Linked DNA regions of Homo sapiens: region 1 is reported to be linked to region 2. The links are microRNA targets in miRTarBase. Many come from high-throughput screens and were not tested one by one. Region 2 holds a microRNA gene; the other region holds the end of a gene's coding sequence.
Evidence for each region. The annotated mature microRNA hsa-miR-1288-5p reads GCAGAUCAGGACUGUAACUCACC and lies in region 2 at 1,040-1,062, shown strand. An mRNA with a match to its seed (bases 2 to 7 or 8) in the 3' UTR can be bound and repressed. Matches are read on the target gene's strand: a 7mer-m8 pairs with bases 2 to 8, a 7mer-A1 pairs with bases 2 to 7 and ends in A, and an 8mer does both.

Region 1 (3,000 bases), not on the chromosome of region 2:
TCCGACCCGAGCGACACAAAGATCACTTCTGGGACCCACCCAGGGAGACTGTTGTTACGAGGGTGGATGGTGACCTGGTTTCCCTCAATGCTGCCACCTCCCTTCTAAAACACACTGACTTGCTAAGAAAAGGGGGGACTGACTCCAACAAAGGACAGACCCGACCCCTATCGTGCCTATGCAATTCAGAAAACGGAGAATTCGGAGGCTCCAGCAAGCAGTTTATTGGGAGTTGAGTTCACCTTGCCTTGTGATGTGAAGCAAGGTAGTTCCATGGCTTGTGAACCCTGACACCAGCACCTCCCATACACAACAGAGCTGGAGCGCTGCAGGGTGGGTCCTTTTCCAAGAAGAGCTAAGTGCTAGTCTTAGCGGGAGGCTAGGAAACCAGTCCTGGAGCAGGATGCATGTGACATGCACTGACGTGAGAAGGCCGGAGCATCATCAGTGCATATGCCGCTGAATATCTCAGGGTAGAATGTGCCAGAAAACAGGGAAAGCAAGTTAGGGGAGGTAAGAATTCTGAGTGTCCTACAGCTAAGACATGGCAGAGTGTGTCTGTGACTCCACTAGCAGTTTTGAGATTATTCTGACTGTGGTGGTTGGTGCAGGGCTGGTAACCGCAGGAGAGTGGATGCTGTGTGGTCAAGGGGTGTGTGTCCCATGATACAGGCTCTGCTTCTTCAGTCTCTCACCTCAGAGCCACCTGCGGTTGCCACAGAGAAATTCAGATGTGAATGTTTAAACAAGTGTCCAAAGTGTAGGTTTGAGATGGGAAATGGAGCTGGAGATGACCTCAAAACAGCCCTGGAATAATGCAATGCTGACAATGTCTGTGAATTAGGATGTGCATAGGCAGATCCCACTTGGGGAAAAACTGTAAGATGCGAACCTTTGTCTTAGAAGTACAGCATTCCCACAGTCTGACCCGAGGACACTGATGGAAACTTAAAAGGCAGATTCTGGGAGTCTTCTCACTTCTCTCCAGTCATGTGTGAGAGCTGAGGGCAGGCACTGCCCTAGAGGGTGTTTCCTAACTTCTGACTGGATGCCACAAAAGGCCTGCTGGGGCCCAAGTCCTTCTTCCCCATTCCTTTAATTCTTCCTACGAAGAATCTCGACAATGGTTGCAGATGTCATTGAAGATGTTCCCATATTGCTTACATTTAAGAAGGTGGCTCTCCAGTGTGGGTGGTTTCATGGTTTTAAAATGAACTGGAGGCCGGGCGCGGTGGCTCACGCCTATAATCCCAGCACTTTGGGAGGCCGAGGAGGGCGGATCACGAGGTCAGGAGATCAAGACTATCCTGGCTAACACGGTGAAACCCCGTCTCCACTAAAAATACAAAAAATGAGCCGGGCGTGGTGGCGGGCGCCTGTAGTCCCAGCTACTCGGGAGGCTGAGGCAGGAGAATGGCGTGAACCCAGGAGGCGGAGCTTGCAGTGAGCTGAGATCGCGCCACTGCACTCCAGCCTGGGCAAGGACTCCGTCTCAAAAAAAAAAAAAAAGAACTGGGGGCCGGGTGTGGTGGCTCACGCCTGTAATCCCAGCACTTTGGGAGGCCAAGGCAGGTGGATTACCTGAGGTCAGGAGTTCAAGACCAGCCTGGCCAACATGGTGAAACCCCGTCTCTACTAAAAATATAAAAATTAGTTGGGCGTGGTGGCATGTGCCTGTAATGCCAGCTACTAGGGGGCCTGAGGCAGGATTGCTTTGACCTGGGAGGCAGAGGTTGCGCCACTTTCACTCCAGCCTAGGCAACAGAGTAAGACTCCAGCTCAAAAAAAAAAAAAAAAAAAAGTAAAACGAACAATTTGGGAGGCCAAGGTGGGTGGATCATTTGAGGTCAAGAGTTTAAGATCAGCCTGGTCAACATGGTGAAACACTGTCTCTACTAAAAATATAAAAATTAGCTGGGCATGGTGGTGGGCACTTGTAATCCCAGCTACTTGGAAGGCTGAGGCAGAAGAATTGCTTGAACCCAGAGGTTACAGTGAGCCAGGATCACACCACTGCACTCCAGCCTGGGGCAACAGAGTGAGACACCATCTTGGGGTGCGGCGGGGAAAAAAAGGTTGGGTGCTGTGGCTCACACCTGTAATCCCAGCACTTTGGGAGGCCGAGGCAGGCAGATCACCTGAGGTCAGGAGTTTGAGACCAGCCTGACCAACATGGAGAAACCCCATCTCTACTAAAATTACAAAATTAGCCAGGCGTGGTGGCGCATGCCTGTAATCCCAGCTTCTTGGGAGGCTGCGGCAGGAGAATTGCTTGAATCCGGGAGGCGGAGGTTGCGGTGAGCCGCGATCGCACCACTGCACTCCAGCCTGGGCAACAAGAGCAAAATTACATCTCAACAAAAACAAAAACAAAAAACAAACCCCACAAAAGATGGGATGGATATAGAATTTTCTTTATAGTTTCTCTCCAGTATATATTCTCAGGTGTCTTTAAAAGATTACGTGAAGTGAAGGCTTTCCTACACTCCATACATTCGTAGCTTTTCTGTCCATGGAGTCCATTCACATATCTGCAATCCCGCAGGAGAGTGCAAGTTCCTCCCCCATTTGTTAAATATTTCATTGCCGCATGAGTCACGTCTTCAAAGGGAATTAGGACAACTGAAGGCTTAATCACACCGTTTACATTCCTTGAATTTCTCTCCAGCGTAAGTACTCTCATACATCCAAAAGGAACTAATACAACTGACAGCATTACCACACTTTACTTTCTTAGGGCTTCTGTCTACTATGAGTCCTTTCGTGCACGTGCAAAGACTTTGAGTAACTGAAGGCTTTACCACATTGTCTACACTGAAAGGGTCTTTCTCCAGTATGAATTCTTTTGTGTACTTTCAGGGAATTTAAACAAGTGAAAGCTTTGCCACACTGCTTACACTCACATGGTTTCACTCCAGTGTGACTTCTTTCGTGCCTTCGAAGGTGACTGAAGTAAATGAAGACCCGACCACACTGTTTGCATTCATAGGGTTTCTCTCT
Region 2 (3,388 bases):
CACCATGCCTGGCTCACTAGGTGTTTTTAAAAGGAAAAAAAATCTCACTTACTTTGAGAAGACTCTTGTGCTTTCACATGTATAAATATAAGCACTAAAATCACATGAACATACATTCATTTGAAGTTTTCAAGGAAATAATCATGAAATGTTTCAGATTATTATTTAAGTAAAAAATTTTTCTAGGAATGCATGGACCCCTGAGAATTTAGCCACAGACTCTCAGGGATTTGTGGACCTCAATTGGAAAACATTGCTGTAGAACAGTAGTTCATTTTGAACTCATTTTTGCAAGCTAAATTTTGACATGTTTTAGATGCTAATTCTAGGAATGTTCTCCCTTTTCTAAGAAAAGTCCAAGCATTTTTTACCTGCTCTAAAAGAATATCAACGGCTTTTATGTTTCAGAGACTGGATGCAAGAGATTGTTTAACAAATCCCATCCCATCCCTGAGAATGTGTCTAGGCATTTGCTCTTTGCAAAGCCAGATGCAACATTCATAATAACTAAGGCTATCTTCTGGCCAGCACTGCAAGTGTATCTTTTGTCTACATTCTTAAGTAACCACATCAAATAGCATCAACCCACTTGGAAATAATTTTGAAGTGATTTGGATCTCTCTTGTATATTTTCCCTATAAATCCCTAGCCTGGTAGGCGTGTATATTTTCTGCTGCAATATTTAATGCTTAGTTCCTTGCCTACATCTAAGAAATATTAATTTTAGAAGGAATTGGATACTGATATTGGCAAATTTTTATGAGACTGGCTAAAGGAGAAAGAAGAAGGGGACCTGTGATAGAATCTTCCATGACAAGGAGGAAATACTGGCCTCAGTCTCCTGCAGAAGCAGGAGCTCTGGTACACAGGTGGGGTGCCCACTGGTACAGCTCCCATCTGACATGAAGCAGGCAAGCCAAAGGGGAGCAAGAGCAATGCAACCTGTAAGACCCATCCTCAGACATTCTGCTATTGCCCCCAGACAATGGAAGGGGGGCGACAGCTGTCCATGGGGGCACTGCTAAGAGGGTGTTGATCAGCAGATCAGGACTGTAACTCACCATAGTGGTGGACTGCCCTGATCTGGAGACCACTGCCTTTCGAGAATAATTCACCCTACAGAAGCTATCTGAGCATCACCAGACAGGGTCTTCCTGGGAATTAGCACATATCCCAAATTTCCTTCAGCTTTGCCTGCCCACAGTCCCCTGAAAGCCCTCCCTTTTTCTGGGTGTGAGAGGAATGGCTGGGCATCCCTTGGCTTATCCTCCTTCTTGCCCACCATAGCCAGCATCTCAGAGTGAACATGCACGAGGGAGGTAGAAAGACTCCATATCCTTGTTCTTTACAACTTAGAAAAGCCTAAGTTATAGGAGAGAGATAGCACAATGGAATGCTGAATTAGAGGTAAATAATTGGTCTGTTTTTTTTTCACCAGTCTAGTTACTACTATTATGTAAAATATCTAATTTTACATACCCTAAACACCCATACCCAAACACCTTGACAAAGGAATCATTTTACCTCCCAAACATAGTCAGTGTTGATTTCACAAAATATCCCTAGAATTACTCTTTCTGAGGCTAACAGGACTACTTAGATGGTTCCTAAAGTCCCTTCTAACTCCTGCATTCTCTGGTTAATGAATCAGCATTAGTCATGTGGAAGGAAGGTATCCTCCTCAAACTCTTTTTAAGAATGATCTCAAGGAATCCAGAGTGCTCATTAAGTTGGTGAAAGAGTCAGTGCAGAATGCAGCTCATACATATATCCTGATGTGATGTTGGCACCTCTCAAGAAGCTGGGAAAGATGTCCAGGCTGGTCATAGGACTCAGCCCCTATTATGGGTCCAGCAGCCAGTAATAGTAAGCAATGTCTACTTCAAAAGATATCTCTGGCCAGGTGCAGTGGCTCAATCCCAGCACTTTGGGAAGCTGAAGCGGGAGCATCACTTGAGCCCAGGAGTACAAGACCAGCCTGGGCAACATGGCGAGACCCCATGTCTACCAAAAAAGAATTTTTTTTTTTTTTTAGACAGATTCTCACTCTGTTGCCCAGGTTGGAGTGCAATGGCATGATCTTGGCTCACTGCAACTTCTGCCTCCTGGGTTTAAGCGATTCTCCTGCCTCAGCCTCCCGAGTAGCTGGGATTACAGTCACACATCACCATGCCCAGCTAATTTTTGTATTTTTAGTAGAGGTGGGATTTCACCATGTTGGCCAGGATGGTGTCTAACTTCTGACCTCAGGTGATCTGCCAGTCTCAGCCTCCCAAAGTGCTGGGATTACAGGCGTGAGCCACTGTGCCTGGCCAAAACAATTGTTTTAATTAGCTGGCCGTGGTTGTGCATGCCTGTAGTCCCAGCTACTCAAGAGGCTGAGGAAGGAGGATTGCCTGATCCTAGGAGGTTGAGGCTGCAGTGAGCTGTGTTTGCACCACTGCACTCCAGCCTGGATGACAGAGCAAGACCCTATTTCAAAAAAAAAAAGATATTTCTGAGGAGCCATGCTCATTCAAGACTCACTGCTCTTAGAAGAGGTGTTAATCTGGCCAGGTGCCGTGGCTCACACCTGTAATCTGAGCACTTTGGGAGGGTGAGGTGGGAGGATCATCTGAGACCTGGAGTTCAAGGTCAGCCTAAGCAACAGACTGAGACCCTGTCTCTTAAAAAAAATAAGAGAGAGATGTTAATCTATATTAAACAATTGAATAGTGTGAAGATTTTGTAAAACTTTTTAAATCACCGATTATACAAAAGCTCTTATTGAATTATTAAGGAGTTAGCAATTACTATTAATGCTGTTGAATATGAGTAAGAACCCACTTAACTTCAATCAGAATCCATCGATCAAGCTTAAAGCCTTATCTCATAGTTCCCTTCCTGGTCTGTCAGCATTGCCTCATAGAGAGGGAAATACATCCCGCATCTGCCTCATCATGAACTTGGGTGGCCACCAGGATATTGCTCATGAAAGCTGCTTTTCTTTCTTTTTTTTTGTTTTGAGACGGAGTTTCACTCTTGTTGCCCAGGTTGGAGTGCAACGGTGCGATCTCGGCTCACTGCAACCTCCGCTTCCCAGGTTCAAGCGATTCTCCTGCCTCAGCCTCCTGAGTAGCCGGGATTACAGGCGCCCGCCACCACACCCAGGTAATTTTTTGCATTTTTAGTAGAGACGTAGTCTCACCATGTTGGCCAGGCTGGTCTTGAACTCCTGACCTCAGGTGATCTACCCGCCTTGGCCTCCCAAAGTGCTGGGATTACAGGCATCAGCCACTGCGCCTAGCCCGAAAGTTGCTTTTATAAACAGGTTCAAGGCCGGGAAATCCATTCTCCTCCACCTCCCAAAGTGCTGGGATTACAGATGTGAGCCACCGCACCCAGCCAG

Region 1: miRTarBase lists ZNF490 as a target of hsa-miR-1288-5p. Seed matches in the 3' UTR shown: 7mer-m8 at 2,131-2,137.

What each region holds. Positions count from the first base shown.
Region 1 is chr19:12,577,752-12,580,751 of GRCh38, forward strand. ZNF490 (zinc finger protein 490) reads right to left here. Exons shown (of 5, transcript NM_020714.3): 5 at 1-3,000. The coding sequence ends at 2,734. Among named protein-coding and RNA genes, the nearest start is that of LINC02926, 28 kb to the left of the region's middle. RefSeq lists an enhancer at 2,173-3,000.
Region 2 is chr17:16,280,989-16,284,376 of GRCh38, forward strand. It overlaps MIR1288 (microRNA 1288), which reads left to right and starts at 1,026; the gene lies at 1,026-1,100. The region is part of intron 2 of PIGL (phosphatidylinositol glycan anchor biosynthesis class L); the gene reads left to right.